7 separate regions of the Homo sapiens genome follow, and all the other regions are linked to region 2. The links come from fine-mapping of genetic effects on gene expression. A gene starts in region 2. Each other region holds a variant in brackets. All regions are shown on one strand. Distances are between the middles of the regions.

Region 1 (4,232 bases), 28 kb before region 2:
CACTTACATTTAGATCGATTACCCATTTCAAGTTAATTTGTGTATATAGTACAAGGAATGACTCAAGGTTCATTTTTATTAATACAATTATCTGATTGTTTTGGCACCACTTGAAAATATTCTTTCCTCACTGAATTATATTTGTACCTTTGTCCATAATCAATTGGGCATGTATGTGTGGGTCTATTCTGTTCCATCAATCTATCTGTTTATACTTACGCCAATACTACACTGTCTTAATTACTATAGCCGGAAAGTAAGCACTGAAATCAGGCAGTGTAACTTAGAATACAGTACTGATTTTTAAATAATTTAATAACTGTGGGACAATTCACCCCCAATGGATATATCACAGGACCTCAAACTGATGCTGTTACTCCCTCCATTCCTTTTTCCTGTGTAAATTAACAGTGGCTCCTTGCACACATGCCAGTGGGACTTCAAAGGCCTCCATGTATTTCCTGCCTAGATGGAGCATAAAGAATTCCTGCCCAGTTGACCTCATCCAGAATGGACTGTTACCTATATTTATTACCACGTATGATCTTTTCTTGTTCCACTGGCCATAACCCCTTGCACCCGTGGTCTCTAGTCCTTAGATTTTTCCAGACCATATCATTAAAATGTTTCTAACCTCTGTTTTGACCATCTGATTCCTACCTATTTGGACTTCCTCAGAGAATCATTTCCCTAACATACTGGTCCTTAACCCAGACCATGGCCTGTTTTCACTAAGAGTCTGGCCCTTACCTGTAACTGAAACCCACCCCATCATCTCACAGAACTAATCTATTAATATGCAGTTTCTAATGAGCTTAGAAATTGACCCACCCTGTCTTAAAACTTAAGAAAGTTGCATTTGTTTTATCTGAATTCCTTTCTCAGAAAACCAACCATCAGGGCTCCCAGATATCAAGGAGCTGAAACTCACCAGATCACTGCATTTGGACAAGGAGACACCAGACCCTTCACCCATTATGGCTGCCTCAGTGACCACCAGCTTCCTGTTGACCAACTCCTCTTCCTTATACCTTCCTAATTCCTGTTTACCGGCATGTAGTTACATTGCCTTCCCACTATATAAGCCCCCAATTTTAGTTGGTCAGGGAGATGGATTTGAGACTGAGCTCCCATCTCCATGGCTGCAGTACCCGATTAAAGCCTTCTTCCCTGGCAACACTTGTCTCAGCAGTGATTGGCTTTCTGTGCGGCAAGCAGCAGGACCTAAACCAAATCTCTGGTGTTCTGGTAACATAAACACAGAAGGGTAAGTTAAAAAAACAAAGCCATTTTCTGCCCCTATGCTCAACCAAATCTGCTGCTACTGGCCATGAGGGCCGCCCACTGCACGATTCAAGGATGCCATTCACACCAAGCAACAAAATGGCCCTGCCCGACTCCTCCTCCTCTTTGCCCACCCTCCCACATTAGTAGAAACAATGTCTTCCTATCAGAATCACCAAGTAAAAATATTTTTAATGTTCCTTGGACCAAATTCATATCCTAAATATTCTTATGTTAACCTTGATGTGTTTCAGACAAGTCAAAATGCAATCTACAAATAACTGTTTCAGTGAGATCACTTTTTATTTCTCCTAAAATCCTCATATATTTACATCATCTTACAGAACCACAATGAGCATAAAATTAGCTACTCTCTTCCTATCATTTGTACCAGCTACCCACCAGACACTTTTGAAATGTATCATGTAAACTGAATTTTCCAGTTGCATGCCAGGATAAAAGTCCTTGAACTTGGGGTCACTTGGCAGTCATTTTATCTTTAAACTCACACCTACAGGCACTAGGGAAAAAAGGAAAGGGAAGGAGAGAGGGAGAGAGAGAGGACTCAGATAAGATGATATCATAAAGTTATATAACATGGTGCCGAAATTGTCTCATCCAAAAAATTACTTGAGATTTCTTTTGGCTTTAGGTATGAACCACATATTAGTTACTAGAAAGGGTATCTAGTTTCCACCTAGATTAAAAAACAAACCAAAAACATGTTTCAGGCCAGGTCTGGTGGCTCATGCC[G/A]GTAATCCCAGCACTTGAGGAGGGCAAGGTGGGTGGATCACTTGAGGTCAGCAGTTCAAGACCAGCCTGGCCAACATGGTGAAACCCCATTTCTACTAAAAATACAAAAAGTTAGCTGGGCACGGTGGCATGCACCTGTAATCCCAGTCACTCAGGAGGCCGAGGCAGGAGAATCGCTCGAACCCAGGAGCTGGAGGTTGCAGTAAGCCAAGATTGTGCCACTGCACTCAACCCTGGATGACAGAGTGAGACTCCATCTCAAAAAAAAAAAAAAAAAAAAAAAAGAAATGTTTCACTGTCAAGATGACAGGCTGAGAAATTATTTCCCCATAAAAACCTAGCTCCACTTAGTTTAAGAAACAAAACTCAAAAGGCAAAAATCAGAAACTCCTGGATACAAAAATCAGAAATGGGAAAAGAGACACAAGGTACAGAGGATGGAGAGGAAGGAGACTAGGAGTTACTACCCTAACTCGATGAAAGCTAAACACAACCAAGGACCCCTCCCAGGACAGCCCTGGTGAAGTGGAATCACATAGAAAAGCAACAGATGACACTTGACATGAATTACTGTCCAGAAAACTTCATTTTAGAAAATGGCTGTTAAGTACAATTGTATATCACTCAACTGTCAAATCCTAGTCTACTCAAGGTGAGGCTCCTATAACTTCTTTGAAATTTCTAGTAATTATTATCTGAACTGAGTTGCCACTATTAAACCAGGCAGCCACTTAGTCCAACTATTTTTGGGTCCCAAATTTAACACTTAGTGTCTTAGAAGAATTTAATTTTCATAGTCCAAAAAGGTCAGAAGCCTGGTTGATGTAAAACAAGTGGTGTCTATTATTTCTCTCAGGAAGGCAGAAAAACTAGGGCAGGGATTACTGCAGCTACAGAATGACTGTCCTCCACACCTCTCCTTGTTCAGGCGGCTTGGCCTACTCTCCTGACAGTGCAGCCACGGAAAAAGTGCCAAAGCATGCCAACCTCAAACAGAGGTGATGACAGAGAAGCTGAAATCCTGGTTTCCCTGGGGATTTGGCTGGCCAATTTTTAGAAAGCTCTACTCCTAGCTGAAGTGCTTTTATTATTCTCTTTTTCTAAGCAGGAAGAATACAGAAGAACAGGGCCTGGGAACCTAGGAGCACTTCTCTTTACCATTGGTTCAGTAAAATCAGTGTCATTTTGCCTGCGAAAAGCTCTCTAACTGATCCCTGTTTTATCAGACGATAAAACTCTGACGCTGAATGGGAACCTAGAACAGGGATCTATGGCAACTTAGCAAGGATCACTTCTTTTTTGTTTTTTTTTTTTTCTTTTTTGAGACAGGGTCTTACTGTCCTCTAGGCTGGAGTACGGTGGCGTAATCTCAGCTCACCGTAGCCTCTGCCGCCCTGGCTCAAACAATCCTCCCACCTCAGCCTCCCCAACGGCTGCAACTACAGGCATGCACCACCACGCCCAGCTAATTTTTTATTTTTTGTAGAAATGGGGTTTTGCCATGTTGCCCAGGCTGGTCTTCAACTCCTGGGCTCAAGCGATCCTCCCACCTCAACCTCTCAAAGTTTTGGGATTACAGGCATGAGCCACTGCAGTCAGCCAGTAAGGATCACTCTTATCCCTAGTAAAAAGGATCCGTGATACAAAATGGCCACTGAGTCCCTTCTCTCTCCCCAGTCTCTTACACATTCTCATAAACAGTGATTGACTCACTTATTTTCTGCAGAAGACAGAATGGCATGAATGGGACGGAAACGGTTCATATGACTACTTGGATATCTCTCATCCTGTGAACCAGTCTAACAAGCAATTACCTTGAGGAATCTGAAAATAAAATCGTGATATGAATTCATGAATCAGGAAAGAACCGTGTACTTGCATAATTAGCCTTCTTTAGAGAATGGGGAAATACATATCTGATACAAGACAATTTTTAAGGTGTAATCCCATCATTTGCAAGTCACTAAGAATAAATGTGAAGGTGACAGTGGGAAAAAAAAGAAAGAGAAAGAGAGATGGGTTGGTATGATCTATTTTTAGCTTACAGTTCAGCTACACATAATATATTAACAAAATTTCTGATACTGCTAAGGTGCATTAATATAGATTAAAGGAAACAAGATAATAAAGGAGATGGACTGAGCTCTTCAAGTCTGTACTAGTAGGAAATGGAATTAAACACAGGCTGTGGGGTT
Region 2 (4,193 bases):
CCTTGGCCAAGCGGCTCAGTCCCTCCGCGTCGTGCTTCTCCTGCAGGGCGATCTGGCGGTGAATGTCCAGACATTTCTCCTCCAGCTCACGCTCTCCGCACAGGTCTGCGTGGGTGCCCACGATGCACACCACCGCGTGGGGCACTCTCGCCCCGACCCGATGCAAGAAGGAGCCCACGGTGGTAGGAAAGTGGCGAGGCTCATAGGTGGCCAAGTTGACCACCAGCACGTATAGGGCCCCTGGGGACAGGAAGAAGGGCTGGATCACCTCATAACTTTCATCCCCAGCTAAGTCATACACGATGAACCGCAGGCCCCGGGAGGCATCGGCCGTCCAGCTGGTCACCTCGATGCCCTTGCTCACAGGGGGAGGTGACGGTGGGTAGCACTTCTCCTTGTCCCCTCCTCCTGGGCATCCCTCCACTCTCTCCTCGGTGAGGCAGTGGCGCAGCAAAGTCTTTCCTGCAGCCTTATGCCCCATCAGGAGCAGCTTGAGCCGGGGCTGCACCGCCGGCTGGGAATGAGCCAGTTCCTTCTGGTAGGCTGCGATGTAGGGGATCCCCTTCATGCAGACCTCGTAGGGGGGCTGGATCAGTGGGTTGTCTTTGATCTTCCACAAACCCACCCGGGAGAGCTGGCCAAAGTGGTCGGGCAGCACCGCGATCTGGTTCCCCTGCAGCACGAGCTCCTCCAGGCCGGTCAGCTCCACGATGGAGTCCGGCAGGTAGCGGATGCGGTTATTATCCAGCCACAAGGTGAGAAGCCGGCCCAGGCCCGAGATAAGGGATGGCACCGAGGTGAGCTGGTTGCGACTAAGGTAGAGCTCCTCCAGACCAGCCAGGGGCAGCAGCGCGGCAGGGAACTCCTCGAAGAGGTTGGAGGAGAGGTTGAGCATTTTGAGCCGCTGCAGGCAGCTGAACTGGGCGGGCAGAGCCTGCAGCCCGTTGTTGTCTAGCATGAGGCTCTCCAAACTGGCCAGCTCGCAGAAGCCGGCGGGCAGCGTGCCAAGCTCGGCCCCACTCAGCCAGAGGATCTTGAGGGCACGCAGGGCACTGATATCCTCAGGCAGGCCCCGCAGCCGGTTGCTGGACACGTCCAGCTCCTCCAGGGCCACCAGCTGCAGCAGCTGCCGGGGGAAGGCAGTGAGCTGGTTGTGATCCACGTCCAGGGTGCGCAGGCGGGAGAGGCAGGAGAGGGAGTCAGGCAGGTGCGCCAGCCGGTTAAAGCTGACATCCAGCTCCTCCAGGTGAGCGAGAGCGCCCAGCTGGGCGGGCAGGGCGGGCAGCTGGTTGTGGCTGAGGTTGAGCTTCCGCAGCTCCCTCAGAGCACTCACCACCTCCGCGCCCAGGGCGGTCAGCCGGTTGTGGCTCACGTCCAGCTCGGTGAGGTGGTGGCCGAGCTCGGCCACCGCCGGGGGCAGCCGGGCGAAGCGGTTCCTGCGCAGGACCAGGACGCGCAGGCTGCCCAGCGCCGACCCCAGCCCCTCGGGTACCTCCTCCAGGCCGTTGTTCCCCAGGTTCAGTGCCTCAATGTCCCCGAGGTTGGCCGGCAGCACGAGCTGGGGGGAGGCGGGGGACTCGAGCGCGTCGGCCCCGGCCCCGGGGCAGGCCCCGGCGGCGGTAAGCGTGAGCTGGCGCAGGTTGCTCCGCAGCTTCCTGGCACGCAGGGCGGCGTCCCGCCACAGCCTCGCGGTCTTCAGGTTGCCACTGTCCATCCCAGCCATGGCGGGGCCCCGGGCCGACAGCCTCACGCGGACGCGGGAGCCCGCAGCTACATGCCGCGCCGCGCCCCGGGCCCTCCGGCTCCTGCCCCTGCCTGCCCTCCCGCGCTCGGCGGCCGGCGGCCGCGGGTCCTAGCGCAGCCAGCGGCCGAGCGCTGGCGGCTAGGGGGCGGCGGCGACGCGAGCGGCTCCGGGGGACGCCGAGCGCGTGGAGAGCAGCTTGCATTCTCCCTGCGGCCGGGCCATGGGCGCGCCGGGCAGCAGGGCCGCCGCCCGCGCGCCGCGGAGGATGCCTGCTCCTCCTCCCTCTCCGCCCGCCGCGCGGCGCCTCGGGGGGCCCGGCTCCGGCCCCGCTACCCTCGCAGCCGCGGTCCCGCGGCCGGCAGCGGCGTCGCCTCCTCGAGCTCCTGGGGGAGGGCGGCGCTCGGCCCGGCGGCGGGCATGCTGCGGGCGCAGGGCTGGGGCGCAGCCGCGGGGAGGGGGCGGCGGCGCCTCCTTGTCTCCGTTTCCCCGGGCTCGGGCGGGAGCGCGGGCGCCGCGTCCCCGGCGCTGGGAGGGCGCGATTGGGAAGCGGCAGCGCCGCCCGCCGGAGCGGCCCCCACGTGACCGGCGGAGGCGCCGCGTTTTCCCGGCACCGCCCCGGGGGCGGGAGCTGCGGAGGGCGCCGGGTGCGGGGCCGGGGGCGCCTGGCGCGGGGCCGGGTCCGCGCCCCGGACCATGCTGGGCGGGGAGGTCGTCCCAGCGGCGGATGTGGGGCTCCGGGGCCCCCCTGGTGGGTTCGCCCGCGCCTGGCTCTTTGTTGGCCCCCAGTCTCTAAGGATTTCTTTTTCTTGTTCTCTAATGCGTCGGATCCGCCGGCTTCCCTTACTCATCCTTTACCTGCTCCCCTGCCGCTCGCCTTGCATCCACGCCGTAGTGGAACTGGCACAACTCGGGGGCCCTGGGTATCATCATAGAAGCTTAGGACAAGAGTGTGGTTAAACAAAATTAGAACAGGCAACCATTCATTCATTTGGTAAATATTTCCTGAGGCCCTATTTCGTGTTGAACATGGGACAGGAGTAATGCAGGCTGGTCAGAGGAGAATAAAAAATACCAGGCAGCAGTTTCACTTGACTGGAGGCTATGGGCTGATAAGACCCTGAAAACCAGGGTGTGTACCAAGCTGGCTAAGACCGGCTGGACCCGACGTGGTCCTGGATTTGACCTAGGTTTCTCCTAGGCCTCCATTATACGCTCTTTAACATCCTAAGTCACACCAGTGCCATGACAATTCCGGGGACACCCATATTTGAAGTAAAAATGGGTGGCACCACAGTCCCGAAAAATCTCCACACTTTTCCAGGAATTTTCATGAATATTTCACCCCTTGGTTAAAGAAACCCATAAAGGTAGCAGCCCCAAGCCCCGTTGTGAGTGACCCTCTCCACAATCCCTTTTCCTGGGTGTGTACTTTTCCCTTTGCAATAAATCTGCATATTGTCACTATTTTCTGAGTTGTCCTTGAACTCATTCTCTGGATGTGTCAAGAGCCTGGACATTGGCTGGGGTCAAGGTCGCACTGGCTTTAGAGGATCTCCCCCAGCCCACCCGTACCAGAACTACTAAAAGACGGTTTTAACCCCCCTGGGGAAGGCTTTTGAGCAGGTGGCCCGCCAGCCTAAAGGAGGGTTGTTAAGATGGGGGGGACACAAGCTGTTTATCTGGGGTATCCCGTTTATCTTCACAACAACGCTGTGAAACAAATACTGTATCCCCATTAATACAGTACCTGTTGTTCTGCGGACTCAAGAAAACAGCTATTTTGGGAAACAGTCACAGTCCATTGTTCAACTCTAATGCTTATTTTTATTGCTGTTAGGAAATGTTTCTTTGAGCTCACATCTATGCTAAGTCAATAATTTCTCCCGAACTTATGAAAGTCTGGAAACCTACCAAGACTCCCAGTGTCACCTCCATCATTCCCTTCAGGTTGATTGATAAGGAAGCAAATAGTTTTCAGGGACCGAAAACTGCGTTCAGTTGGTTAAAGGCATCACTTGACCCACTGCAGCTCTCCCCGACATGCGCTATGGCTGTCATTTGGGGACCCATATTTGGTGCAGTAACGTGAGAAGTGTGTGTTTCCAAAAAGAGCACCTGAACATCTGAGGCTGGAAATCCACCCCAGTGATGGTTATCAGGCTGCAGGTAGTACATGCTGTAACTGGAGGATGTTCCCCAGTTCTGCTGGGTCCCTGAGGCTCTGACACCACAGATGAAATGTGAGTAAGTGAACAGCAAGAGCTGATCTGTGTTCACTCTGAAGGACTTCCGAGAGTTCAGATGGCTCAGGGTAGCCCCACCCACACTCCCTCCCAGAGACAGTCAATTTTACAACAAATATTCTGAGTTATCTAGGCTGACCCTTTTTTTCCCCCACAGAGGAGGAAATGGGCTCAAAGTAAGTGACTTCTCAATCAGCCATCAAAGT
Region 3 (4,136 bases), 21 kb before region 2:
ACTCCATTGAAATCCATCTTCCACACTGCTGCCCTGAGTGTGCTGACAAAATGGAAATTTGACATTTCCCCATTTGACCCTTCAGTATTTTCCTCTCACCCTCTGAAAAAAACCATCAGGCTTTAATTTAGCTTAACACCCAGATGCCAGAAGTTCCTTCTGGTGAAAAAGTGTTAGCTAGTGAATAGATAGGCTAAAAGTTATTTACACGGGATATGTACAGTGGTTCAACCTGTAATCCCAGCACTTCGGGAGGACAAGATGCACAGATCACTTAAGCACAGGAGTTCAAGACCAGCCTAGGCAACATAGTGAGACCCTGTCTCTACAAAAAAAAAAAAAAAAAAAAAAAAATTAGCCAGACATGGTGGCACGCACCTACAGTCTCAGCTAACTCGGGAGGCTGCAGTGGAAGGATAGCTTGAGCCCAGGAAGTTGAGGCTGTGGTAAGCTGAAATCGCGCCACCTCACTCCAGCCTAAATGACAGAGCAAGACTCTGTCTCCCAGGAAAACAAAAAAGGTTTAAAAAGAAAACAAAAATATTTACAGACGTGCATTGATAAATGAATAGTTGGGCTGCCAGTAATTTGTACAGCCCATCACACGTCAGGGGCCCTGGTTTTACAGAAAGTCCCTACGACTCACCTCCCCTGGAGACCTCCCATCCATCTAACCACCCCACACACACACACGTGGATCAAGACAGATTCCATCCCGCAGGCCTCTCCGAGCCCCTGGAGATCTTTTTCTCCTGGAATTTATTACACAGCCCTGCAAATCTCTGCTTACTGTCCACACTGCTTCCCTGGACTGCAGCTTCCCGGGGTCAAGGCCTTGCTCCCCTCCCATGCCCCATGCTCTGCCCCATGGCTGGTCACTGCCAATCCCCAGCAAATGTTTATAGTCCAGTACTGCAATGTTAAAAGCAACCATGTGCATTTCACACAAGGAGTCCTTACTTTTTTTCTTTTTTTGGTGACAGGAGCGTCACTCTGTTGCCCAGGCTGGAGTGCAATGGTGCAATCTCAGCTCATTGCAACCTCTGCCTCCGGGGGTTATTCTGCTTTTCATTCAAATAACTACCCATTTTTAATGGGTGACAAGCTATTGCCTTCCTGAGAAGCAGCACAGGGTGACAGCAAAGACCATAGGTTCCTGAGGACAACCTGGGCTCTGCTACATGCTGTGTGCCCCTGGCCATATGACTTAGCCCTCCTCTGTCTCCACTCCTCATCTGTAAACCAGGATGATGGTAATCAGAGCTAATGTTTACTGAGCCCTTATTATATGGTAAAAACTACTTGCAGCTGGGCGTGATGGCTCACACCTGTAATCCCAGCACTCTGGGAGGCCGAGGGGGCTGGATCACTTGAGGTCGGGAGTTTGAGACCACCCTCGCCAACTTGGTGAAACCCAGTTTCTACTAAAAATACAAAAATTAGCTGGGCATGGTGGCACATGCCTGTAATCCCTGCTACTCATGACAATGAGGCACAAGAATCATTTGAACCAGGGAGGTGGAGGTTGCAGTGAGCCAAGATCACTCCACTGCACTCCAGCCTGGGCAACAGAGTGATCACAAACACGCAAACAAAGAAAAAACTACTTGGGGACTTGACATCTATTCATTCATTTCCCCCTCACAACATCTAAGGAGACTCTGATAGCAGGTGTAAATGCTTGGGAACTGTTAGAATTATTTTTACCTATTTACAGACGAAATTGAGGCCCAGGGAGGCCAAGTGGCTTCCCAGAGGTCCAGGCCCCCGACTTCCTAATCCACTGATTTAATTACATCCAAGGCTCAGATGCATGGGCTCAGATGTATGAATGGCATTCAAGAAGTGCCTGGGAGAGGTTAACATACTGCTGATAAAAGATGCAAGGCCTCTTTCTCTAATGCTGGTTTAATATAAAGCAAGTAAGCTGCATGGCAATATTCATCTCTAGCTACAGCTAAGGTGACACTTGTTCTGTCACCCTACCTAGGAAACCGTATCAACTCCCTGAGATGAAAATCTGCCCCATTCCAGAAATGAGCTAAATCAAAGGAGGGAGAAGGAAGGAAGAGGAGGCTAAGGCAAAAAGTTATTCACACTTTGCATAAACATGCCCGGATGGCAAGCATTATAAAACGATCTGTGTAACATAAGCTTCTGGGTCCATGGGAGGCAAGGGAGCATGTGACTGTGCACGGATATGAACAAAGCCAGCGACACACCACCAGATTCTTCAAAAGCAAATATTTGTCTATGACCAAAGAATCGGGATTCTTTTCTAACAAAGAGGAATGTACACCGTTCTAATTCCTGATTCTTCCTCCTGCTTTACAGTGGGTTATGATCTCGATGGAAATCCCCCCATGAATAAATGTGTCTGCAATCACAAATGGCCCCATAAATCAGAAGATTTATGAACTGTAAAAGG[G/A]GACGGCAGGAGGATTCCAACCTTGCAGCTTCCTTCATGCGGACCACCTGGGGCCGGATGCATGGCAGTTTATCACTTCCTGGAAACAGTCATCTGGCTTTTCTTTTTAGCTAAGCAAGAAAATGTTATCAGCCCTGGTAATCAACAAGATGCAATCATCCCTGCTATTTGGGTAAGCTTTTAATGCCGCACCACATTACACAGAGGAGGCTCAGATGCATAGGCTCGGATGCATGAACAGCATTCAAGAAGTGTCTGGGAGAGGTTAACACACAGCTGATAAGCTCTGGCTGGCTGCAGTGAGGCCTGGCCCAACAGCCCCTAAGGCAAATTCCTGAAGGGACTAAATAGAAAATGAGTGGATATTCCCTATTCCAAGGGAAAAAATAAAAATAAAAAAAAAGATGGGAACAATACAGTAACCAGGGAAAAGCACAGAGCATGCACATGTGTGTTTTTCTTGGGGAGGGGGAAATGCATATATTTCAGAGGCTTAACAAATACATTCAAAAGAACACCTGCTCCATCCCAGACAGGCAGCAGAACATCGTGCAAGAGTGAGACGGAGACAACCGGGCAGTGCCACTCGTGAGCCATCTGGGAGTGAGGGGTGTCAGGGAAGGGGACAGATGCACCCTACAGGGCTTTGCATCCCAGTTCTTATTACTGTACCTTGGGCACAAAACAGCCCAGCTCTAGGCAAGCCAGTGAGCCATTTTTGGTATCATAGTGTTCTTTTGGAAAATTCACATTTCTATTTTTAGTTCTTCCACATGCAATTCATAAGCAATAGCCCTCCGGAATCAAAGTCACCTCAGCTATGCCATGAGTCAAGAGAATCCCAGTGAATATATTTTTTAATAGCATGTTCAGGGAAAATGTGACCAGCTCTGTTCGGCCATACTGTCTGCATTGACTTGGCAGTTAGCATGAAATGAAGGATTTTAAAGACCAAACACTTCAATGAGTCCTGTGAAAAAAACTCCCAAGAACCTGACTGGGGACTTTGTTAGCTTGAAATAAATATATACGTCATTAAGTATGTTTTAAACACAGAAGCAACTATAACAGGATTTAATTGCTTACTTTTTTTTTTTTTTTTTACAGGTCAAACACATTTTAGAGTGCTGGGTTACACCCACTCTTTCTTCATCACATGTACAGAAAGGCAAAGAGTGTGGGTAATCTCTTAAATTTTAAATTCCCACTTGGTATGAGGATAAAACATCCAAGAAACATTTCCTGTGCAGAACACACCAAGCTTAGGTGTAGAAAATACAACGGTGTGGAACTCGAGAGGATGGTTCTAGGATACAAATAAAAACAACCACGCAGCGCGGGAAGATTTTTGTTTAGAAAACAGATGGGACAGAAAGGCAGATGCAATGTTTTGAGTCAATGAGATACAGTTCGTTCTTAATTATATTTCATTGATTTCTTACATGGACAGAACATCATTCTTGCTGCCACTGTTTTATTTTGATCAGCGGTATATCTATCTGTAAACATGTACAATTTGTAATTATTGCTATGTCTAAACACTGCATCACGTGTAATGGCTGAATTAAGCTGTGAAATGCGTAATTATGCTGAAAACAATGGTGTTCCAATACACATCACCAAAGCCAATTTAAAAAAATTACCTTGTTTCAAATCACAAAGCGAAGCCTTCATAACCCTCGAGGCTTTTTTTAGGTCCCACCACTTT
Region 4 (4,226 bases), 120 kb before region 2:
TGCCTCAGCCTCCCAAGTAGCTGGGACTACAGGCCCATGCCACTGTTCCTGGCTAATTTTTGTATTTTTATTAGATATGGGTTTTTGCCATGTTGCCTAGACTGGTCTCGAACTCCTGGGCTTAAACGATCCACCCACATCGGCCTCCCAAAGTTCTCCCACAGGCATGAGCCACTGCACCTAGTCATCTTTAAAAGCTTCTATGGTGCTTCAGACTTGCTCAGGCAAATCACCTGGTCTCTCCCACGGGTTGCATTAATCAGTGGGATCACATTAGACCAGGAGTCCCGGACTGTCTAGTTTGATTATATTATGCAGACTTTCACATACCACTGTCATAATTTTTACCATATCTTCACATTTTTTCTACATCTGTGTATCAACTGCACTTATTAAAACTTTTTCTAATACACTTTTAAGTATTTCTTTCTAAATGCATTCATTTTTAAAACAAATGTTTTATCACTCATGCAAAAAGCCAATTAATAAATATAATGAAAACAAAAATTAAACATTCTAGCTACACACTGTTAAAGGCTCTGAACTTGAGGCCTGCTTTCTCTGTATAAAGAGAGCTATGCGGCCAGGTGCAGCGGCTCATGCCTGTAATCCCAACACTTTGGGAGGCGGAGGTGGCTGGATCACGAGGTCAGGAGGTCGAGACCATCCTGGCTAACACGGTGAAACCCCGGCTCTACTGAAAGTACAAAAAATTAGCAAGGTGTGATGGCGGGTGCTTGTAGTCCCAGCTACTCCGGAGGCTGAGGCAGGAGAATGGCATGAACCCGAGAGGCGGAGCTCACAGTGAGCTGAGACCACGCCACTGCACTCCGGCCTGGGAGACAGAGCGAGACTCCGTCTCAAAAAAAAAAAAAGAGAGAGCTATGCAATAGAACAATTGTATTTGATTAGTGCTGTCATAAGCACTTTATACATGGTATCTCATTTAACATTTATAACAATTGTATGAGGTAGATTGTTTCCCCATTTTACACAAGAGGAAACTGAGTGATAGTGGGTCCATGTCCCCACTCAAATCTCATGTCAAATTGTAGTACCCAAGGTTGGAGGTGGGTTCTGGTGGGTGGTGACTGGATCATGGGGGTGGATTTCCCCTTTGGTGCTGTTCTTGCGATAGTGAGTGAGTTATTTCGAGATCTGGCTGTTTAGGTATGTAGCCCCATGCCACCCCCACCCCTCCCTGCCCCACCCACTTCTTCCTACTCCAGCCCTAAGACGTGCCTGGTTCCCTTTCACCTTCTGCCATGATTGAAAGTTTCATGAGGTCTCAGAAGCCATCGTGCTTCCTGTACAGCCTGCAAAACTATGAGCCAATTAAACTTTTCTTTATAAATTACCCAGTCTTAAGTATTTCTTTTCATCTTTCTTTTTTTTTTTTTTCAGATGGAGTCTCGCTCTGTCACCCACACTGGAGTGCAGTGGCATGATCCCAGCTCACTGCAACCTCTGCCTCCCAGGTTCCAGCGATTCCCCCACCTCAGCCTCCTGAGTAGCTGGGATCACAGCTACCTACCATCATGCCCAGCTAATTTTTGTATTTTTGTAGAGACGGGGTTTCACCATGTTGGCCAGGCTGGTCTTGAACTCCTGACCTCAGGCAATCCACCCACCTTGACCTCCCAAAGTGCTGGGATTACAGCCGTAAGCCACTGTGCCCAGCCAAGTATTTCTTTATAGCAGTGTGAGAACGGACTAATACTCTGAGGGACAAGAAAGAATAAATGGCAGAGGCAGCAGATCAAGCAGCATTAACATAAGCAACTCCATCTTAGAAAAAGACTCCATCTTACATTTTAAAAGCCATCATGCCGACAGGGACCAGATGTTCACCTAATCAATAGACACTGCACCCAGCCAGATAAGGACAAAACCAGGCGCACTTTTCCACTATCAGGCCTCACCAAACGACTCTGGAGAGCAGGACTTCGCCAGCTCAAAACGCCCATCTTAACAGACACTGTCTTGCTGTCACTTGTGATAAGCACCTGGCATCCACCTCTGAAGTCTGTGCCCACATAAAAGACTCTTCCTTGCAAGACCTTGCAGGAAATTCTTTTTGTCTATATTGCTCTTCCTGGACTGGTTAACTCTTTCCCTCATCCCTTTTCTCTTGATTTTTTTTTTTTTGAGAC[G/A]GAGTCTCACTCTGCCACCCAGGCTGGAGGGCAGTGGCACCATCTCGGCTCACTGCAACCTCTGGCTCTCAGGTTCAAGCAATTCTCCAGCTTCAGCCTCCAAAGGAGCTGGGATTACAGATGCACACCACCACACCTGGCTAATTTTTGTATTTTTAGTAGAGATAGGGTTTTACTACGTTGGCCAGGCTGCTCTCTAACCCGTCACCTCAAGCGACCTGCCCGCCTCGGCCTCCCAAAGTGCTAGCATTACAGATATGATTCACTGCACCTGGCCTCTCTTGATGTAAAATTTACTTTATTTGATGTGGAATGTTTAATCTATAACATTTATATATCGATTAAGCATACCACACCATGTATGGTTTGCAATGCTGACTGACTTGTGGAACGGTTTGAGCCTCACACCTCTGACTACTGACTGAATGGGTAATAGTAAGGAGAGTCGCCTCCTTGGTAATTCTAGGTAGCTCGTGGCTTCTGTGACTGAAATAGCATCAACAAAAGTCTGACATTGTGGAAAGACACAAATATGTGTGGATCTGGTTATCTGACCTTGAGACGCTCAGGATAGCCAGGATTCAAATGGAGGCAGTCTGGAGTCAGTGCACCTAGCTGCCTCCTACATAATGCAAAAGACAAGTGATTCTCTATGATTTGATGCCATCTGTGCCTCAATTACAAACGCCTGAGACTGCATTGGAGTACATGGCCCTACTTTGGAAAAACTGGTCTGGGGGGATGTCCAGACAGCTCTGGGGAGAGGCGTCTTCCTTCCACGCTCAGATACACATGGAAATGCTGCACATTCTCTCAGCTTTTGGGGATTCACCTTTTGTATTGGTATCTAAATGGTTCTCAGAGTCCTGCAGCAAACACTGTCTTAAGCTTTCTTTTTCTTCTTTAGAGACAGGGTCTCATTCTGTTGCCCAGGCTGGAGTGCAGTGGTGTGATCATGGCTCACTGCAGCCTCGACCTACTGGGGTCAAGTGAGCCTCTTGCTTCAGCCTCCTGAGTAGCTGGGGCATGTGCCACCACACCGGCCTTTTTTTTTTTTTTTTTTTTTTTTTTGTAGAAATGAGGTCTCACTGTGTTGCTCAGACTGGCCTCAAACTCCTGAGGTCAAGCAATCCTCCCACCTCAGCTTCCTGAGTAGCTGGGACTACAAGTATGCCACCACGCCTGGCTGATTTAAAAAAAAATTCTTTTTGGTAGAGATGGGGATCTCACTATGTTGCCCAGTTTGGTCTCAAACTCTTGACTTCAAGCAATCCTCCTTCCTTGGCCTTCCAAAGTGGTGGAGTTACAGGCATGAGCCACTATGCCCAGCCTCTTTTAAGCTTTCTTTAATGCAGCATTTCTTATTGGATCTCAGAATCATTTTAAAGGGGAGCCTGTATTTGTACCTCAGGAGACGCAAATGTTCCATTAAGCAGTCTGAATCCTTCTCAGCATTTAGAATAAAATTCATTTCATTAAAAAATATTCCTAGTTTTTAAAGATGAAGAAAGTATTGCTTCCCTGAAAGAGGTTACAAATATTCAAATAGGGTTTCTGTTACCTGGTGAAATTTCTCATGCCGTCGAACACAGATCACTTCAGAAGGTCATCTGCTTTCTAACACCCCTTCCAGTCCTTCCACACCCGCTTCTGACTTGGCAGCAGGAGCAGCATTTCCACCAGGTGATGGCCTTTGTCACTGCCAGTTCCACTGGGGGGCACCAGCAGCCATGGGCAAAGGAAGCCCTGGGCATTTGAATTTGGCACAGAAGCTGCCACCATGTGTCAGGCACTCTGTGTTCAAAGAGTGAAAGGAAAATAGAATCTCAGGATCCCAAACTCAGGATGGCAAAGGGAAACTTCAGCATGGGAACTGAGTCACGCAAAAACTGCTGTTCCTTCTGTTCCCAGACAGCTGTAATTTCACAACCTCATGTCACAGCCTCATTTCCTCTACTCCCTCTTTAAACGTTAACTTTATCTTGTGTAAAATGTAGATTTACTGAGCTTATCTTGTGTAAAATGTAGATTTACTAAGCTGGAGACAATGAATAATTGTTTTTTTCCTCTACT
Region 5 (4,232 bases), 330 kb after region 2:
GGTGCATGCTAGGAGGTTTGGGTGGAGAGGCGGGGTGCCATGGGAAAACGGGAAGCCACTGAAGGTCATTTAGCAGCAAGTCATGGGGTCTCAGAGTCATCTCTGACAAATCAAGCTACTGTCATAAATAAGAATAAACGGGGTGGGGGAGCAGGAGCCCAAGTGAATCTTGTGGTTCCAGACAAGAGATGATGGCAGCCTGGACCAGGATTTTAAAGACCTTGAAAACTCAGACAGAGAAAGAGTGAGTTCAGTAAAGAACACTCACTCTTTCTCTGTCTTCCTCTCTAGCTCATCTCTCTGCCTGCATGAGCTCATGACTAGTCCTGGGATTTTAGGTCAATCTCTGTGCCCAAATGCATATTTCAATCCCTGCTTTTTCCACCAAGCTCCAAATTAGTGTTTGACAAACTACAGCCCAACTGTGGCCTGGCATCCATTTCCGTATGGCCCAAAAGCTAAGAAAGGTCTTTATACTTTTAAAAGATAGGGAAAAAATCAAAGAAGAGTGTATAACAGGGACTCTATGATCCCAAAAGAAAAAGTTTGATTACTTCTAGTCTAGACTCATATATAGCTCAAGTATAATGTGTCCCAACCAAAACTTTTGATGTCCCCCTGCCAAAATTTTTTCCTGCCTCACTCTTCTCCATTTCAGTAAATGGCATTTCTATGTGCCAGCTGCCTAAATTTAAAAATCTAGAAGTCAGACATTGATCCTATCTTGTATATTTTTTACTCAACCTATCAGCCCATTCTCTGGTTCCCCTCTGACATACGCTCTGCATCAGGTCACTGCTCACCACTTCCACTGTTAAAAGAACACTGAAGTTAGAGAATACTGGGGAGGGGGTGTGCATTATTCAAATTTTATTATGCAAGGCAACAAACAGTCCCTGTAGCTCAGTGCCTTCTGAGAAAAAAGGTCTATTTCTCACTCAAGTTACATGGTGGCTGCAGTCCTACTGTCAGTCTATTCTACATCTTCCTTCCAGACCCAGACTGAAAGATACACGCCCATCAGAGCAGCCTGCAGGGGAGGCCAAAGAGAGATGGTAGAACCAGGCAAGGACCCTAAAATATTCTCCCGGAATGCAGCATCTGTCACTTGCATTCACTTTCCATGATCAATCTGGTGGTTGAGGGGATGGGTAATTCTCTCACAGGGATACACCGTGAATCTTTGGGAACAAGAATACAACTATCACAAAGAATGTGGTGTTAAGGAAATCTACAGCACCTAATAATTCAAGAAATGGGATGTGGTCAGCTAGATCAAATGCCATTTAGAAGTTGAGTAAGATGAGATCAGAGCAGTGACAACTAGGGTTGGAAATATAGAGGTCTTTTGTTTAGTCAATAAGTCATTCTTCTAGGCTAGCCATATTAATGTGTACTTTCTGTGCTGGATGCCAATAGTAACAATACTGTTGTCAGCCTGCCTCTGTAAGAACAATCTCACCACTTCTGTACTCTGAAAATGGAGCTGATTCAGGATTGGTGACTTGTGGGCCCAATAATCCAATGTATTTAGCAACAAATTTAGAAGGAAACCTGATTTTTTATTTTTCCAATTGTAATTATGTGCATTCTTGGAGAGGAATCTGTGGCTACACAAACAGCAATGATTATAGCTTCTGACCAAATTAATTTAAAGGGTTTTCCAAAGAGGCATTGAACAGTAAGTTTGCACTTTGAGGAAGATTCTCTACACACCTTTTTTTTTTCCTATTAGTCAGATTTTCTGGGTCAACCCTAACACTTCCCCCAGATCTACCTCTTTCTTTGAGAGGAATGCGTGCACAAGTTTGCAAAGTCGGGTGTGGGGACTGTGCTGGTGAAGCAATAGCAATGGTGTTGAGCCGAAATGTGGATTCCCTGGGTGTTTTTCTCCTCTGTCTGCCCGGGGACGACTGCAGAAGTCATTTTGATATTTGGCAAGATACCTGAAAAACGTGAAATTTCTCCATGTGATCTGTATTTACTTTGACATTTTAAAAGAATTGTTCTTTTAAAATATAAATCCTAAATCTTTGATTTTTCTTTTTAAGTTTAGAATAT[C/T]GAAGTTGGTAAGTTGGTTTCTAAACATTTTTTTTATGTTTTGAGATAGGGTCTCATTCTGTTGCCCAGGGTGAGTGTAGTGGTGCGATCTTGGCTCACTGCAGCCTCAACCTCCCAGGCTCAAGCAACTCTCCCACCTCTGTCTCCCAGGTAGCTGGGACTACAGGCATGCACAACCATGCCTGGCTGATTTTTGTATTTTTTGTAGAGACGAGTTTTTGCCATGTTGCCCAAGGTGGTCTTGAACTCCTGGGCTCAAACAGTCCACCTGCCTTGGCCTCCCAAAGTGCTAAGTTTACAGGCATGAGCCACCATACGCAGCTGGTAAAATCTTAAAGGTATTTGGATTCAACTTTTTTTTTTTTTTTTTTAAATGAGAATCTCTACAACCCTAATAAGCTTAGCCTCCCTCTGCTGTATCTGGAGAGCAGGGTGCTCATTGTCTTAGTACCCAGGGGACAACACCAACCTTCAACTGATGGGACTCTCTAATTTTGAGGGAATCCTTTCTCATGTTTAATTAAAACTTGCCTTCTTGTAACTTCCACTAGTAATCCATGCTAGGGATAATACAGATGTGGCATAATAAGAAATATATCTAGTCTTTGTCCCTAGTTCCTAGCACAGAGCTTCTAAAAACAAAACAAAACAAAACAAAAACCCTTGGAACTTCTTCCTGAGTGATAGGAGTGTCTTTTGTTATTTGTAATGAGAGCCCCTTTCTATCACACCTGAGTTCAGGCTAATGAGATGAACCCCCAGAGTGGGACTCCCAGATAGCTTCAGGATGGGGGCTGGTCAAACATGACGCCATTATTTGAGGGTTAGAAATTTCAGCTCTTGTCCCCAACCTATGGGGAGGAAAGAGGCAGTGGAGATTGAATTCAATCACCAATGGCCAATGAGTTAATCCATCAAGCCAACGTAATGAAACCTTCGTAAAATCTGAATGAGAGCTTCTGTGTTGGTGAACACATCCATGTGCCGGGAGGGAGGCATACCTCAACTCCAAAGAGGCAGAGGCTCTTGTGCTCAGGACATTTTTGGACCTCATCTTATGTACCTCTTCATCTGGCTGTTCATTCCCATCCTTTATAATAAAATATAGTTCCAAGTATGGCATTTTCCTGAGTTCTGAGTTGTTCTAGCAAATTAAGGAAATGTGGCGTGGGGCGAGGGCAGGTGGCGGGTGGCATGCTGCAAACCCTGGAACTTGTAGCAAAGTCAGACAAATTCAGGTGACCTGGGAACCCAGTACCTATAACTGATGTCTTAAGGGAGAGCAGTGTGTGGGACTGAGCCCCTTTAACTTGTGGGATCTGAGGCTAACTCCAGGTAGTGTCAGAATTAAACTGAATTGTTGGATACCCAGTTGATGTCCAGAGAATCAGAGATTAGGATAAATCTGCTCCACCATTTACATGAGAATCTTCTGAATATTCTTAGTCTTCTCTCTTAGGTTGCACGTCTGTAGTTCTTCAAACTCACATGGGAGGCAATTGACCATATACTCATCACTGCAATGAGCATATCAGGAGGTACCACATTGAACCAAGAATTCTGGTAAATGACATTTTCTCCCTCTCCTTACACATCCAGTGATATTGAACATCTTATAGTTTGGATCCCTGGACACCTTCATGGCAGACTCACTCCTTACTCCAGCTCTGGATCTCAACAGTTCCCTCATCCCTCTCAGCCTTCTCCCTCACTCCTCAGAAGCTAACATTTGCCAAAGTCAATCTTGAAATGTTATGTTTAAAATTCAGCTCACTTCTCTAGATATAGCCTGATGAGGACACTACGGGTACCCTAGGCAGTTAATAAATAATAGTCATTAGTTAATAATTTTAGGTTCCTTCAAATGGATATGCTCTCAATATTTGTCTAACTGTGACTTGGGGTCAAGCAAGGAAGACTGGCTCGCAGCAGCTCTGGTCCTCTTCTCTACTGCTCTAATCAGTTCAGCTCTGGCCCAGTCCTGCACACCCTACTAGCAAACGTTAGTCCTACTATAGATAACTGCACCCACCTCCTTGTAAGCCATTTAATGACTCTCAATTATAACTCAAACTGTCCTCAGAGAGCTCAGCCTTCACTGCAATGAGCGTATCACAAAGTATCACATTCAACCAAGAATTCAAGAAAATGACATTCTTTTTCCTCTCTTT
Region 6 (4,232 bases), 83 kb before region 2:
CCCTGGGAACCCTCCTCTGCCCAGTGTCCCCACACTGTAGACGCTCCCCTGGGAACCCTCCTCTGCCCAGTGTCCCCACGCTGTAAACGCTCCCCACCTGCTCATCACTTAGGCACTTTCTCGGTTATCAGATCCACTGTCAAAGTGTTGCAGTGCTTAATACGTCACCCTTATTTTACTTCATAATGGCCCGAAAGTGTAAGAGTAGTGATGCTGGCGATTTGGATCTGCCAAAGAGAAGCTGTTAAGTGCTTTAGTAAAAAGCTGAAAGGTCTTGACTTAATAAGGAAAGAAAAAAAATTGCATGCTGAAATTACCAGATCTACAGTGAGAATGAATATTCTGTGAAACTGTGAAAAAGGAAAAATAAATCCATGCTAGTTTTGCTGCTACACCTCAAACTGCAAAAGGTATGGTTACAGCACCTGCTAAGTGCTTAGTTAAGATGAAAAAGACATTACATTTGTGGGCAAAAGATATGACCGGAAACGTTTTCCAATTGATGGCAATTGGGTTTGGTGCCATTGGTGGTTTCAGGATCCAGTAGGGTACTTGGAAAGCATCCCCCGCAAATAAGGGTTGGAGGAATGACTCTATAGCAAGGGTGCCCAACGCCAGGGCCATGGACTGGTACGCGTCCATGGGCAGCACAGAGGGAGGTGAGTGGTAGGTGAGCAGGCAAAGCTTCATCTGTTTACAGCCACTCCCCATTGCTCAAATTACCACCGGAGCTCCATCTCCTGTCAGATCAGGGCAGCATGAGATTCTCATAAGAGTGGGCAAACCCTACTGTGAACTTGTATGTGAGGGATCTAGGTTGCGCGCTCCTTGTAAGAATCTAATGCTTAATGATTTGTCACTCCCATCACCACCAGATGGGACCAGCTAGTTGCAGGAAAACAAGCTCAGGGCTCCCACTGATTCCACATTATAGTGAGTTGTATAATTATCTCATTATCTATTACAATGTAATAATAGTAGAAATAAAGTGCACGACAAATGTAATGCACTTGAATCATCATGAAACCATCCCACCAACCCCAGTCTGTGGTGCCGAACAAGGTTGGAGACAGCTGCTCTTGGTGATATAGACATACAGTGAGATGCACACACACCCTGCCCTTTGTTGCTCTACAATGGCCCGACATGTAAGTATGTCCTTAAGAAAATGTGCACAAGGACTTACACCATCCTCTCCTCACTGACCCTAAAAAGGTCTGACACCATGTGACCCAAGTCAAAGCCGCCTCTTCCCGCCACTCACTCGTCCCACCACGCCTCCCTGCAGACGCGTGTGCCACTTGGCTCCATTTTGCTCGCTAAGGGTTTATATAAATACAAATCCACCCAAGAAAGGAAAACTATTTCCCCTTTTCCTGCTCTGGATAAAGTTCCAGCAGACTTGGCTAAGGATGAGACAAGCTTCACAGATCAAAGACAGTTGGGGAGAGGGGGAGGGGGAGGAGCAGAGCACAAACCTAGCTCAGCCCTCTCCTCTCACAAAACACAAGTCAAGATTATAAAAAGCCCACAGTGCTGCACTGAAGTGCTTTCAAAAGGTTACTCTTTATTTTGATAGCCTGTCACCTACTTCTTACTGGAAAATGGTTCCAGACTCAGAGAGGTTACTGCAGACGGCATAAAAGCATTCAGACGACAACGTTCTCTCCCCAACATTCATTTTCCTTGCAAGAGAAAATAGGACGAACCCTTATGACCTGAAATTATAAAACTAGCGCCCAAGGACCTTATCAAAATCTACCTGACTTTGAAGTACTAAGGGGAATCATGTGAAGTCCTTAATAATGATCAGAAGCCAGGCCGGGCGCAGTGGCTCGCGCCTGTAATCCCATCACTTTGGGAGGCCGAGGCGGGCAGATTGCTTGAGACCAGAAGTTCGAGACCAGCCTGGCCGACATGGTAAAACCTCATCCTACTAAAAATACAAAAATTAGCCAGGCATGGTGGTGGGCACCTGTAATCTCAACTACTCAGGAGGCTGAGGCAGGAGAATCGCTTGAACCTGGGAGGTGGAGGTTGCAGTGAGCCTAGATCATGCCACTGTACTCCAGTATGGGCGGCAAAGCAAGACCGTCTTGGGAAAAAACAAATGATCAGAAGGCGTATACAGTCAACTCCTGAACAACAAAGGTTTGAACCATGCAGGTCCATTTACAGGAAATTTTCTTCCACTTCTGCCACCTCCTGAGAGAGCAAGTCCAACCCCTCCTCTTCCTCCTCCTCAGCTCACTCAATACGAAGACGATGATGAAGATCTTTATGACAATCCACTTCCACTGAACAGTAAATACATTTTCTCTTCCTATGATTTTCTAAACATTTTCTTTCCCCTAGCTTAGTTTATCGTAAGAGCACAGTATATAATACATAAAACATACGAAATACATGCTGATGAACTACTGATGTTATCCGTTAAGGCTTCCAGTCAACAATAGGCTATCAGTAGTTAAGGAGTCAAATGTTATATGTGGATGTGATTCCATGGGAGGGGGCTGGTCAGTGCCCCTAAACCCCGAGTTGTTCAA[G/C]GGTCAAGTGTACTTGCTTCTTGTCTCCTAACATTTCTGCAGATTCATTTTTCTCCAAGGAAGGGGAGGAAGGAGAAGGAGTGAAGGTTGGGACTGGGAGGTCTGGTAGAGCTGAGGCCTCCCTGAAGAGTCCTGGGAGAGAGGAGAAAACCCACAGGCTTGCAATCGGACCCACAGCACCTCAAGGCCAGAAGGAACCTTGAAATGGCTCAACTTTCTCCTTTTGCTCATGAATAATATCTCGCGCAGGCAGAAACATCTCCCACAGCACTACAGGGAGAGGATTCCAGCTGGAATCCTCTCTCAACACCAGCTTTTCTTTATCTACTCCCCTACCCAAGTGTCATCCGCAGAATAAAATCCAGCCGGGACTTGAGGCCATTTGAAACCCACAGCATCTATGATGACGGGAAAAGCACTAAATTGCACAACTAATTTAAACCCAGCACTGCCAAGCCTCTTCAACCTCTGAAAAATTATAATTGCAAACCAGAATAAAAATTTTTTTTTTTTTGAGATAGGGTCTTGCGCTGTCACCCAGGCTGGAGTACAGTGGCGCAATCATAGCTCACTGCAGTCTCAGCATCCCAAGTAAATGGGACCACAGGCACACACCATCATACCTCATTTTTTTATTTTTATTTTTTGTAGAGATGAGGTCTCGCCATGTTGCCCAGCCTGGTCTCAGACTCATGGTCTCAAGTGATCCTCCCACTTCAGCCTCCTAAAGTGCTGGGATTACCGGCGTGAGCCGCCATGCCTGGCCAAGGCCAGGGTTATTCTCCTTTGGGTAACTAACGTCCACCTGACGCATACTAGCTGATGCTGCGTCTCCTCTGCAGGGACGTAAGCTCCACAAGAGTGGGATTTTCCTTACTCACTGTGGGATCCCAAGCATCCAGAACAATGTCAGGCACACGGCAGGCCCTAGATATATGTTAAAGAACGAAACTCATCCATCCCCGAATCCATAAGTTGGGGCATAAACACGGAGGTCTCTCAAGTGCCCTCAAGCGTGTGGTTCTGAATCCGACACTGGTGGGGCACAGGGTTAGGCTGCGGGGGCCAGAGTCCACACCCTCTTCTTCCACAGGGTACACAAGTCACCACCTAGGAAGCTTCCAGACTTCCCTGGGCAGTACTACCTTCTCCGCATGCCATCCAAGGGCAAACAAAAAACCCCAAAACCAGAAGCACTCCAGGAAGTGGTCACCCTGCTTTGCTGTCTTACCAGATTACTGGATCTTTTTCAAACTAAAGAGAAAACCACAACAAAGTCAAGTTCCATGTGCGGCGACTCCAATGCCAACCTCTTAGAATATTTTCTCAATTTTGAGGATTACATGGCTCGGAGAAGCCCGTAAGTGTAGTGCAAAATGTCCTCTTCTGAATCGTAGTTGCAAATGGCTTCCTTTGAGGGGGAAAGGGCAGAGATACGAAGAATCATTTAGTGGTTCAGGGGTGTGGGGTAGGGGGAGACTGAAGCCGGCGTAAGATCTTAGCATCCCCCTTTTTGTCCTCCAGTCTTGGTTACTTACACGGGCTGGTCAGTACGCTGCTGGGTCCCAGGGTGGTGGGCACATCTCTGGAGATCTTTCTTTCTGCAATTCTCTCCTCTGGGTCGGCTATCTAGGCCACCCTCCTGGCACCACAGCCTGGAAACTCTCAAGACAGTAAGCTGGGGCA
Region 7 (4,232 bases), 39 kb before region 2:
GAAAGCATCCCACCATGCAAAGCTCTAGCTTGGCTGACATCAGAACAGAGTCCGGTAAACAGTTTCTTATATTAGGCTATCATTGTTGTTAGCCCCGATGAGTCAAATTTACATTCTGGGAGAAGGGTATGAGCCCTCACTTCTACATACTTAAAGTCAGAAGTGATTGCATTTCCATAAGAACATTTATACCCGGATGTATTTCAGAGTCCTACTTTGTGGCTGGGAAGGTGGCCTAAAAAACCCAATATCACCCAAAGGAAGCAGGAGGTCCTGATTCTGTTCTCAGCAGCAACTGCCTGGCTCAGTCCGTGTGTCTGCTCTCAAGACCCCGACTATGCCCCTGCAGGCTCCATTTCTCCTACTACACAAACAAGGCTCTTGCCACCCACTCAGGCTTATTTACTTGCACTGTGTACATATACACCGACTCACACACACACTCACATACCCCCCAAAAAAAATGGAGGCTTAAAATACCCCATTTTGTCACAGTTTGCTCGGAAGCTACTCCCTCTAGTTCAACAGGCGGCAAGCTCCTGTCCTACCTGCCCCTTTCTACCTTTTGGGAATAAAAAGGAGCAACCAGAAATAGCAGAGAAAGCGGAAGGGAACCAGGATCTGACTCGTAATTACAGTTCCATAAACCCAGACAACTATTTTTGTTAGTTAACCTGGACAATCGCACAAGGTGTCTGCTCATTCTTAAAAAAAAAAAAAAAAAAAAAAAACCACACACAACTTAGATTGCTAGTGCCTGGCACGTACAAGGCAAACAGTGTGGGTACAACCATTAGGTCAGGTCCTAGCTACGTATATATATTTGAGATGGAGTCTTGTTCTGTCGCCCAGGCTGGAGTGCAATGGCGCAATCTCAGCTCACTGCAAACTCCGCCTCCAGGGTTCAAGCGATTCTCCTGTCTCAGCCTCCTGAGTAGCTGAGATTACAGCTATGCGCCACCACTCCTGGCAAATTTTGTGTTTTTAGTAGAGACAGGGTTTCACTATGTTGGGCAGGCTAGTCTCGAACTCCTGACCTCAAGTGATCCCCCTACTTCGGCCTCCCAAAGTACTAGGAGCCACCACCCCTGGCTTAGCTACCTATTTCTATTGTCAAGGTTATCCAACTGTTGTAGGTTAAATGGTCCATACTCACTAACACACTGGTGAAGGTGGATAATTACTATTTCCAATTCCCATGTTGCATTCCATAAAAGACACCAACCAACTCCATGAACACCTTGATTTGTCTTAGTTGTGTTCACATTATTAAATTACACTGATTTAGGAGCAAAAAATCCTTTGTAAGTCATGGGCATTGTATAAGGTTGCCCAATTTACAAAACAAAAATATACGCTGGGTGTGGTGGCTCACAGCTGTAATCCCAGCACTCTAGGAGGCCAAGGTGGCAGGATGACTTGAGGTCAGGAGTTCAAGACCAGCCTGGCCAACATGGTGAAACCCCGTGTCTACTAAAAACATAAAAATTAGGCCAGGTGCAGTGGCTCACGCCTGTAATCCCAGCACTTTGGGAGGTCAAGAAGAGGTCAGGAGATCAAGACCATCCTGGCTAACACAGTGAAACCCCGTCTCTACTAAAAATACAAAAAATCAGCCAGGCTTGGTGGTGGGCGCCTACAGTCCCAGCTACTCCGGAGGCTGAGGCAGGATAATGGAGTGAACCCGGGAGGCCGTACTTGCAGTGAGCTGAGATCGCACCACTGCACTCCAGCCTGGGCAACAGAGCGAGACTCTGTCTCAAAAAAAAAAAAAAATTAGCCAGGTGAGGTGGTGCATGCCTCTAGTCCCAGCAACTCAGGAGGCCGAGGTATGAGAATTGCTTGAACCTTGGAGGTGGAGGTTGCAGTGAGCCAAGATTGCACCACTGCACTCCAGCCTGGATGACAGAGGGGGACTTTGTCTCAAAAAAAAAAAAAGGAAGAAAGAAAAAAATATGTATTATGACTAAATCAGAACATCACATGGAACATATTTACACTAAAAATTATTCGTTGCTTACGTGAAATTCAGATGTAAGAATAGATGTATACATGAGACCCACCCATAAGCAACACTTTATTGTTTATCTGAAATTCAAATTTAACTGGCTATCCTGTTTTTTTGGTTTTGGGTTTTTGGGGTTTTGTTTGTTTGTTTCTTTGTTTTTGATACAGGATCTCACTCTATACCCCACGCTGGAGTGCAGTGATACTATCACAGCTCACTGCAGCCTCCATCTCCTGGGCTCAAGTGATTCTCCCATCTCAGCCTGTCAAGAAGCTGGGACCACAGTCGTGGTCCTCCCTCAGTATATATGGGGGGTTTGGTTCTAGGGCCCCCACCCCCAGCATACCAAAATTATTTTTTATTTCTTGTTGAGAGAGGTCTCGCCATGTCGCCCAGGCTGGTCTCGAACTCCTGGGCTCAGGGGATCCACCCGCCT[C/T]GGCCTCCCAAAGTGCTGGGATCACAGGCGTGAGCCACCACACTCAGCCGACATCCTGTATTTTATCTGGCAATCTTAACATTGTATTAGGACAAGCGGAAAACAGATGAATTAAGACATGGCATCTTACCACAGGAGCTCATTGTCTGGTGAAAGAGCCAGACCTGAACTAGAATCATACAATGGAGGATTGGAGGCGCTTTCCAAGCGCTTTCAAGAACACAGGGAAGGAGCAATTAAATCCTAACTGAGATGCACACTAATGTCTCCATCCTGCACAATGAAAATGAACGTTATAGAATTTATTCTATCATTCTATATATCCCACAGATTCTTTAATCCTGATTCATGAACTCGCTACAGTGTTTTCAGCCAGGCACGGTGGCTCACACCTGTAATCCTGGCGCTTTGGTAGGCCGAGGCGGGTGGATTACTTGAGGTCAGAAGTTCAAGACCAGCCTGGCCAACATGGCAAAACCTACTCTCTACTAAAAATACAAAATTTAGCCAGGCATGGTGGCAGGCACCTGTAATCCCAGCTACTTGGGAGGCTGAGACAGGAGAAGCACTTGAACCTGGGAGGCTGAGGTTGCAGTGAGCCGAGATCACGCCACTGCACTCCAGCTTCGGCAACAGAGTGAGACGCCGTCTCAAAAAAGAAAAAAACAAAAAATTATGCTTTCTGCCGTTATTTTCATCTGAAGCAAGTTACTGACAAGGTAATGTGAAGGGGGTTATAAAACACTGGCCATAACAGATTCAGAAACACAGATGAGAAAAGATGCTCAGTTATTTCAATGCCAAATAAGCCTCCTCACTTTTGTGCTTTGAAAGCGAGCGGGGACTGAATGTTTACCTGTTTCAGAACTACAGTTTAGAAGACGGTCTTCCCCATGTCTGCTGAGATGAGGGATTCCCCATGAACTCCTCACATGCACAGCTCTGAAAGTAAGATCTGGGGCCCTTATTTGGAAAACAAACTCCCTAGATCTTTTTGCTCCAGCAGCCAAAGGAGCTGGGCATGGTACAAGAGTCACTGGTCAGGTGGGGTCAAGCCAGGACAGTGCTGGAGAGATCTGTCCCGAGCTCACTCGAGTGTCTTTCTCATGGCACTGGGGCAAGCATGACCTGCACAGCCTGGCACAGAAACAGCACTTGCCCAGAAGATACTTCCCCGTATTTCAAGATCAAACAAAGTAGGACGCAGAAAAGAAAAGAAGCAAGGGAGGTAAGGGATGGTGTGTACATATTTCCTGTTGGAATTCCTCTGGAGTATAAAAAAGAGGGCCTGACAATTGCCAAACATATCAGGTGAGGCTTTGGGATCCACTGGTGGGAAACACTGAATATATTTAATATCCAAGACAATAATTCAAAGACTCTAAATTGGGAAATTAGCTTAATAGTATTTTACTTGCAAGGTCCTACATTTCAATATTAAAAATACTGACACATTAAAAAATGAAATTGGTCTTTTATTCCTAGCCTATTCATCTTTGCATCTTTCCCAGCACAGAGCATCCCCATGGCACTCAGCAGACCCCCATGATGTCTGGTCAATTAATGAGTTAATGGATGGTTTCAAGCCCATGAGCCAGATTCCTGTCACCGGCATGTATCAGTTTATTGCTGCACACGGGAAACCTTGCAGCCACAGGGCTTTGTTTATACACTGCCCTAGAAGCCACTAGGATTCTCTAGATCAGAAAGAGAAATATATTCTAGTTCTCATCTTTCAAACTGGCTCAAAACCTGACACTTTCACATCAGGAAAGTGAAAAAAAAAAA

The links.
Region 1: its variant is fine-mapped to the expression of MFHAS1 in whole blood (TOPMed, PIP above 0.99).
Region 3: its variant is fine-mapped to the expression of MFHAS1 in whole blood (TOPMed, PIP above 0.99). The same link has a PIP of 0.9 or more in blood mononuclear cells.
Region 4: its variant is fine-mapped to the expression of MFHAS1 in T cells (TOPMed, PIP above 0.99).
Region 5: its variant is fine-mapped to the expression of MFHAS1 in skeletal muscle (GTEx, PIP 0.96).
Region 6: its variant is fine-mapped to the expression of MFHAS1 in whole blood (INTERVAL, PIP above 0.99).
Region 7: its variant is fine-mapped to the expression of MFHAS1 in whole blood (TOPMed, PIP above 0.99). The same link has a PIP of 0.9 or more in blood mononuclear cells.

The regions. Positions count from the first base shown.
Region 1 is chr8:8,862,980-8,867,211 of GRCh38, forward strand. The region is part of intron 1 of MFHAS1 (multifunctional ROCO family signaling regulator 1); the gene reads right to left. Among named protein-coding and RNA genes, the nearest start is that of MFHAS1, 29 kb to the right of the region's middle. The variant G/A (reference allele first, on the strand shown) is at 2,038.
Region 2 is chr8:8,891,336-8,895,528 of GRCh38, forward strand. MFHAS1 (multifunctional ROCO family signaling regulator 1) reads right to left here and starts at 2,295. Exons shown (of 3, transcript NM_004225.3): 1 at 1-2,295. The coding sequence starts at 1,723. RefSeq lists enhancers at 1-715, 716-1,676 and silencers at 1,521-1,790, 1,901-2,180, 2,191-2,440.
Region 3 is chr8:8,869,962-8,874,097 of GRCh38, forward strand. The region is part of intron 1 of MFHAS1 (multifunctional ROCO family signaling regulator 1); the gene reads right to left. Among named protein-coding and RNA genes, the nearest start is that of MFHAS1, 22 kb to the right of the region's middle. The variant G/A (reference allele first, on the strand shown) is at 2,429.
Region 4 is chr8:8,775,968-8,780,193 of GRCh38, forward strand. No RefSeq gene overlaps it. Among named protein-coding and RNA genes, the nearest start is that of CLDN23, 76 kb to the left of the region's middle. The variant G/A (reference allele first, on the strand shown) is at 2,154.
Region 5 is chr8:9,218,198-9,222,429 of GRCh38, forward strand. No RefSeq gene overlaps it. Among named protein-coding and RNA genes, the nearest start is that of PPP1R3B-DT, 69 kb to the left of the region's middle. The variant C/T (reference allele first, on the strand shown) is at 2,062.
Region 6 is chr8:8,808,266-8,812,497 of GRCh38, forward strand. All of the region lies in intron 1 of MFHAS1 (multifunctional ROCO family signaling regulator 1), which reads right to left. Among named protein-coding and RNA genes, the nearest start is that of MFHAS1, 83 kb to the right of the region's middle. The variant G/C (reference allele first, on the strand shown) is at 2,547.
Region 7 is chr8:8,852,760-8,856,991 of GRCh38, forward strand. All of the region lies in intron 1 of MFHAS1 (multifunctional ROCO family signaling regulator 1), which reads right to left. Among named protein-coding and RNA genes, the nearest start is that of MFHAS1, 39 kb to the right of the region's middle. The variant C/T (reference allele first, on the strand shown) is at 2,445.